Linked DNA regions of Homo sapiens. The protein of the gene in region 1 purifies or fractionates together with the protein of each later gene. This does not show direct contact. Each region holds a gene or a part of one and is shown on either strand. Other genes may lie near its edges. The genes, in order: ANKRD10 and SETX.

Region 1 (3,822 bases):
CCATTCATAGCCATGCAGTCTTAATAAGGCTAATAAAAATAGTGACTTTAGTCTGTAATAGTCCTGCACATAGCCGCCTTATATTTTTAAGAATTTTGTTGGTTTCTGAGATTCTCAATTCTCTTTTATCTCTGATCAGATAGGATTTGGGTCTTTTTTCAAAAGGTGTAATGCATTTATCTTATGCTTTAAAAAGTAGAGACGCTTAGCTAGTGTCCATGCACACTTCTCATTTCCAAGGTCAGAGCTCTATGATGTCTGCAAATAACGAATACAAGGCTATTGTCAGTCCTTATAAATAAGAAAATATTATTTGTCCCTAATTCTGTAGTTTTCACTCTCAAATGCGGGGTTTTTTTTTTTTTTTTTTTTTTTTGCATTAACAGTAACCCCAAGAAAGGCATCAGGGTTCTGGAGTGGTTGTTTGAGTGACACAGCACAAGGCCTTGATTTCATCATGCTTTTGCTGTGGATGTAGTGTAGCTTGCTGAACAGGTATGGAAGCTGTCTTTGCTGTTAAGTACTTCTCCCGTTTGTTTATCAACCTGCAGCTAACAGGATGTCTGCTTTTTTACAGGTTTATTTCACAGAGCAGTGTACATTCTTGTCTTCCAGGGGAACTTCAACATGGAGTTACTTTTGATCCCTCAGTTTTAATTCAGTGTCTAAAGGTTTACAAGTTCAACTTACTCTATTTTATTCAGCTCTTTCACTTACTCTGCCATCACTTCCTACTTGAATCTGAGTTTTAGCTACTGTAGAGGTCTCAGACCTTTCCTTTTTAGTACTATTAGCCAGGTAAAACTTTGGTTCTTGTGAGTGGTAGGGATGAGTTTTTAGGACAGTATTCAAAGCCTTTTTAAAGGAACCAACTACTCAAATGCTCTACAATGCCAAAAATACAATACTCCTGCAGGTTTTCCCAAGCAAGGCCAAAACAATCAAAATCTGACAGAAAAACACAGCTGTTCAGCTCTGGAATCTGATGATAGGCTACTTTTTAATGTCAGGACATCCTTCTAAACTTCCACTTACAGTGTCACATGTAAGCATGAAGGCTGGCTCGTTGGTGAGCCATTGCTTTGTTTTTAGGAAGACAGTTATGAATGCCATGGACAATCTCAGTACATGTTGTTTGTTATGATTTTATTCACGCTAAAGGAATGGGTATTAAAATTAAGTGCATATAATATAGAATTCAGTTTCAAGTCTGAAGTTAGCGTAAATTTAGATTCTTCAGACTAACATAAAACATGATTTTGAGAAGTTAAATAGGAAGATGCCTTTTTTAGAAGTTTAGCATATTTAGTTTATCTCCCAAATCTTGCTTAGAAATCAAATGTATATAAGAGAAGTTAGTTACAGAGCTAGATTGATTAACTACTTCTTTAATGAAGATTTGCTATGAATTTGTTTACTCTTTCATACCACCTTCAGATAGCTAGTCAGTTCAGCAGGAGCAGAGACCAGGTTAGCACGCGGATGGGGTGTAATTCAGTGTTTTTGTGTTGTACAGCCTGAGAAATGCCAGTGGCCTGACAGCAGCAGACATTGCACAAACCCAGGGTTTCCAAGAGTGTGCCCAGTTTCTCTTGAACCTCCAGAATTGTCATCTGAACCATTTCTATAACAATGGCATCTTAAATGGGGGTCATCAGAATGTATTTCCTAATCATATTAGTGTGGGAACAAATCGAAAGAGATGCTTGGAAGACTCAGAAGACTTTGGAGTAAAGAAAGCTAGAACTGAAGGTGAGACCGCTTTGCGGGTGGGAAGAGCACACTTATTTTTCCTTTCTGTAATATGTTTTCTTTTTATGGCTGAGCGCACCTTCGAGATGAGACCTTCACTTCAGGTGGTAATGCGCCTGGTGGATTGTGCGGTGACGGTGGAGATTTCTCCTGTACTGCCACTGCGAAGATGGGACTTAACAAAAGGGAATGTGAGGGAAATACTGATGGCCCAAGTGTAAATGTCTATGTGGAACTTTTTGAGCACCCATGTTTACCTGCCATGAATTAGATTTTTTAATTTGTTGTATCTGTTTGAAATATATCTATTAAAGAAAATCTGCCACTGTGCCTGAATTTTTTTTTTTTTTTAATTTGCTTCTTGTAAATGTTCCTGGGCTTATAAAAATTGCTGATGGTCTGGCAGTAAAACATTTTCACATTCGGGAAGGTGAATGTTTTCTGTACTATTTCTGTACTATGATTTGACCTCAGTGGTCTCTGTACCTCACATGTGTGTTGACTTATCACAGCAAGATCTGGTGTATAATTTGATCTTGAGGATTTAAGTCCCTAAGGTAAGTTATTTTCGTTGTAAGTATTCTCCCACCATTTTTTTTTTTTTTTTTTTTGCTCTGTCACCCAGGCTGGAGTGCAATGCTGTGATCTCGGCTCACTGCAACCTCCGGCTCCCAAGTTAAAGCAATTCTCCTGTCTCAGCCTCCCAAGTAGCTGGGATTACAGGTGCATGCTATCACACTGGGCTAATTTGTATTTTTAGTAGAGAAGGGGCTTCACCATGTTGGCCAGGCTGGTCTTGAACTCCTGGCCTCCAGTAAGCCACCTGCCTCGGCCTCCCAAAGTGCTGGGATTACAGGCATGAGCCACTGTGCCTAGCCGTTTTTTGGGTTTTTTGTTTTTTGTTTTTAAGGTAGGTTTGAGTTTGCAAATAAGCAGTCAGCCAGTCACTCTTGAAGTTGAAAACATCTCCCTTTCCTATAGGAAAATCATCTATATCTATATATAAGATGTCTTAGGCCAGTTGTCATGGCTCATACCTGTAATCCCAGCACTTTGGGAGGCTGAGGCAGGAGGATTACTTGAGCTCAGGAGTTCGAGACCAGCCTGGGCAACATAGTGAGACCTTGTCTCTATTTAAAAAAAAAAAAAAAAAAAAGTCTTAATAAGAAGGTAAATGTGATAGCTTGGCAGGCATATTTAGTGAACTTAGGGGGAGAGGTGGGAGTGTGAAGTAATGAAGCAGATTATGAGCTCAGATTTGCTGAGTATAAGCACAAAGTTTTGCCCGTTGGTTTAAAAAAATCAACCGTGCAAGTTACAGCATAAGGAAAACTGAGTGACTATCAGTTAATCACTTAAAAATCTAGAGATTTTGGTTAAATTTCATGAACCAACATCATCTTTTCTACCTTATTTAATGAGTGTGTCCAAGTGAAACATTTTTTCCCTATAAAGTTGATAAAATGTCAGTATTATGTACTTCACAACTATATCTTGTCACCATAAAAATTCCTGTGATAAGACTTTTTATAGTAATGTATGAACTTAACAGTTTTATCAAATTCAAGATTTTTATGAGTTAAGCATTTCTGGAAAGATGCTAAAATCATAAGCATGACATGAAGATCTGCATAAAATTCAAAATGGTCTTTTTTAATGGTGATGTATTCAGCATTGTCATTTATTTGTACCATGTTTTAATATATTTTTTCTAATGTAGTTTCAACGCCTTTTTAAGAGCATCCACTTTTTAAAAAAATCCTTTGTCATTTCCTTTAATTAAAGCCTGGTTAGTATTGTAGAGTGGCCTCATGCCCTCATGCACGAATTGTACATGTCTGTCCCTGTATGTCACTGTATAGTCTAAATGTCCTTGAAAAATGATTTATGCTTCATTTTCTCTTATTGCTGATAAATCTTAAATTCTGTTTAGTATTTTTAAAAAGAGATCACTTAACATGCTAATTGGACTCAAAATGCACCTAGAAGAGTTCGTAAAACTAGTCTCAGAGTTTCTAAGGTCAGTTGAATTGGCCAATACCACATTGCTTAATTACCCTGAAAAGCATT
Region 2 (3,822 bases), on another chromosome or scaffold:
AGCCTGCTTTTGTTGACTGCAAAGTCCACATTGTTTTTCTTATGCCAAACTGCCTTTTTGGCAATTGCAACTTTTTTAGTCTTAGTTATGTGAAGAGAAGAACATTATTTCATTATTCCTTCTCCTTTTTGCATGATATATTAATATAGCAATAAAGTGTGTCAACATTGTACTGCATTATAACAGGTGTACCATGTTTATTTGTGTGATCAGGGCTTAATTCTGTAGAATATAGGATACATTTAGAAGAGTTGCAGTGAGGATTGATGGCTTACTCTGTGCTTTTGGCTCTTGAAAATGATTACCTTTGCCAAATTTATAGTTCTAAGGCAGTCTCATTCCCTGAACTCCTCATAGATCAAAATCATGTCTTGGATACCTCCATTTGGAAATGTGTTAGACATTTCAAATCCACTAGTCCAAAAGTTAACACTTGATTTTCTGCCTGACATCTGCACTTCCTTCATTCTTTCCCATCTTGTTAATTGGGGCCTCACTTCTTTCAGTTACTCAGGCCAAAAACCTTGGAGTTATCCATGATCCTTACTTTCTCTCACACCTCACTTCTAATTTGTCAGCAGATATGATTGATTTTTCCTTTGCAATATATCCCAAATCCAGTTCCCACGTCTACTAGTGCCTCCTGGTCCAAGCTGTCATTAACTTTTACCTAAATTACTATGGTAACCTTGTAAGTGGTCTTTTTGTTTCTGTACTTTTCTCATTGTAGTTATTCTTTGTTCTGAGGTAAGAGTGGTTCTTTTAGTTTGTGAGATAGAGCATGTTATTTCCCTACACAGAGTGCCCAATGGTTTTCTACCCTGATCCTGAATAGCGTTCAGAGTCATTACTGTGATCTGCACAGCCCTATAAAATGTAGCCCCGTTTTACTCTGAGTCGCTAAGCGTTCTTCTCCCTATTTTTCCTTCTATCCATGTTAGCCTTCTCCCTATTTCTAAAATATTCCTGGCACATCTCTGTCTTACGATCTTTGCAGTTGCTTATTTTCTGCATGTAGTACTATTTACCCTCTGCTGAGTACTGTTTACTCCCTTACTTCAAGTCTCTGCTCAAATATTTCATCAGGAAGACCTTCTCGGACCAGCTTATCTGCCTCCATCCCCATCACTTCCTCCCTTTGTGTGCTTTCTTCAGAGCACTTACTACCACCTGACATATTTATTTGGTTATCTGCCTCCATCTTCTAGAAAATAAGCCTCCGGAGGACAGAACATTACTGGGTTCAGGAAGCAGTCCATAAATATTTACTGGGTAAATTATGTAAATAATATCCAAAAATATGTTAAAAATACCTAATTCTGCATGACCTTTACAACTAGGCAGCATTATTCAGTGATAACTGAAGTTGCTTTTTCTCTTTCTTGATGATAGTGCGTAATGGGAAAACTGAGTGTTACCTTTCCATCCAGACTCAAGAGAACTTTCCGGCCAATTTAAACGAACTTGTGAATTGTATTGTAATCAGTTCTCTGGTAACTACACAAAGGAAGTTGAAAGCCATGTCTCTGTTGGGTAGTCGGAACCAACTGGCTAGAGCTGTTCTGAATCCAAACCCTATGGACTTCTGTACAAAAGATTTACTGACTACAACATCTGAGAGAATTGTGAGTGATGATGTATGATACTAGATAATTTCATGTTAAGATGTTAAAGCATCATATTTTTTAGCTGCTATGTATTCCTATATGTTTACAACAAAAATGTGTTCACGGTGAACAGTTTAGTGTTAGTTTTCTTTAGTATTGCAAAGTATGTAATTTAGGTTAAGTCAGCTCACTTCAGGAAAAGGTACAGTACAATAAGCGTCGAAGGTTGCTGGAAGAGCAACATTAAAATGTTAGGTCAGCAGCCTACTTAATGTGCATTAGGTGAGAAGTCTCAGGTTTAGTGGTGTTAAATTTACATTTGAATGATTGATGGAGAATTGGCCGGTATTGTTGGAAATGCAAAGATGAAGTTGTCAACTGAACATGTGAAGCTGTGTATAAACTCTAGGAAGTTAACAGAGAAATGCAAAAGGAAACTAACTATTTAGAAACTCTAGAGCTGTATGCTATGGCTTTCATGTGCATTATCTCAGTCTGTTCTCACCTCTTAAGGAATCCTAGATTTAATGAGTAACAGAGGCCAAGGCTTGGGTTAGGAGCGTAGTGGCCTAGCTTGTAAGTGCAAGTGAAGCTTACACCCAGATCTTCCCCTGGCATACATGCTTTTTCCACTGTATCACATGTGCTAGGAAATAAATAGTCTTGGGATGTTTTCACTAAGGAGAAAATTGACTAAAGAAGGAAAAAAACAGAGTAGTAAATAGAAGAAAAGTTGTGGATTAGTAAATGCAATTTATTGTGATTATCTTTGTAAGAATAAAAAATAAAAGTACAGTTGTATTTGTAAGTACTTGAAGCGTTACAGACACTAATTAGTAATTAGTAAGTAATTAGCTTTCTTTCCAGTAGTGAACGTGCTTTTTAGATTAAAGGTCACTTTGGTGTCCTTGTCTTGTCTGACCATAACCAAAGCTTTTGTCTCATGCATTGAAAGAAATTTGGACAGGTCTTTTTCATGTTCTTCCTTTCAAATTCCACTACAGAAACAGCAACTCATTCTCAAAAATGTGTTTTTTATATAGATTGCGTACTTAAGAGATTTCAATGAAGATCAAAAGAAAGCAATAGAAACTGCATATGCTATGGTGAAACACTCACCATCAGTTGCCAAAATCTGCTTGATTCATGGACCACCTGGAACAGGAAAATCAAAAACTATTGTTGGCCTCCTCTATCGTCTACTGACAGAGGTAGGTATGGGTGAGGGCACTGATGCTGTTAACTAGCTGTATCATTTTACTTTACTTGAGTTAACTGACATGTAAATAAGTATTAACATGCCATTTCCTCTTTGATTTGTATATATTTTTTATATTGTGTGTAACTGTGTCAGAGAAAAGGGTGGCAGAGGGAGGGAAGGTTATGGGAAATAAAAAGAGGAAAAAACCACTATCTTATGTGAAACAAATCGTAAGGACTAGAATGATGGTCTTCAGGCTTCACGGTAGGTCACGTAGAATGCTGTGAATGCTGGGCTGCATTTTGGTTGGATTGTGGTTTTTTGTTTTTTTTTTTTGAGACAGTGTCTCGCTGTCATCCAGGTTAGGGTACAGTGGCACGATCTTGACTCACAGCAACCTCTGCCTCCCAGGTCAAGTGATTCTCCTGCCTCAGCCTCCCGAGTACCTCCCTAGTGGCTGGGATTACAGGCGTACACCACCACCCACAGCTAATTTTTGTATTTTTAGTAGAGATGGGGTTTCGCCATGTTGGCCAGGCTGGTCTCGAGCTCCTGACCTCAAGTGATCCGCCCGCCTCGGCCTCCCGAAGTGCTGGGATTACAGGCGTGAGCCACTGTGCCTGGCTTGGATTGAGTATTCATTAAAGTAAGTGGATGATAAAGTAAGGCTCAGAGCAGTTATGACAAATTTTTTTGCTGGAGTAATTTTAAATATCAGTGTTAGATGTAGATGCTTTTATTTATTTTTAACTTTATTACGAGAACTTTCAAAAATACATGGAAGTAAAGACAAACTTTAAAGCTATGTAATAGAGCTCACCCATATTTTTTGTGTGTTTGTTTGGTATGTATATGTGGCAAATTGTAGAACCAGAGGAAGGGGCATTCAGACGAAAACTCCAATGCCAAAATCAAACAAAACCGTGTCCTCGTGTGTGCACCTTCCAATGCAGCTGTTGATGAACTCATGAAAAAAATTATCCTTGAATTCAAAGAAAAATGTAAAGACAAGAA

Evidence for each region.
Region 2: the proteins of ANKRD10 (region 1) and SETX purify together in Homo sapiens (affinity purification with mass spectrometry; one large-scale study listed by BioGRID and IntAct). This does not show direct contact.

What each region holds. Positions count from the first base shown.
Region 1 is NC_000013.11:110,890,958-110,894,779, reverse strand, and holds part of ANKRD10 (ankyrin repeat domain-containing protein 10), read left to right. Parts: intron 1-386; coding exon of another isoform or gene 387-432; exon of another isoform or gene 433-577; coding exon of another isoform or gene 578-671; exon of another isoform or gene 672-1,516; coding exon 1,517-1,752; exon of another isoform or gene 1,753-2,088; intron 2,089-3,822.
Region 2 is NC_000009.12:132,295,883-132,299,704, reverse strand, and holds part of SETX (probable helicase senataxin), read left to right. Parts: intron 1-1,392; coding exon 1,393-1,625; intron 1,626-2,650; coding exon 2,651-2,818; intron 2,819-3,676; coding exon 3,677-3,822. UniProt on the Homo sapiens protein: Probable RNA/DNA helicase involved in diverse aspects of RNA metabolism and genomic integrity.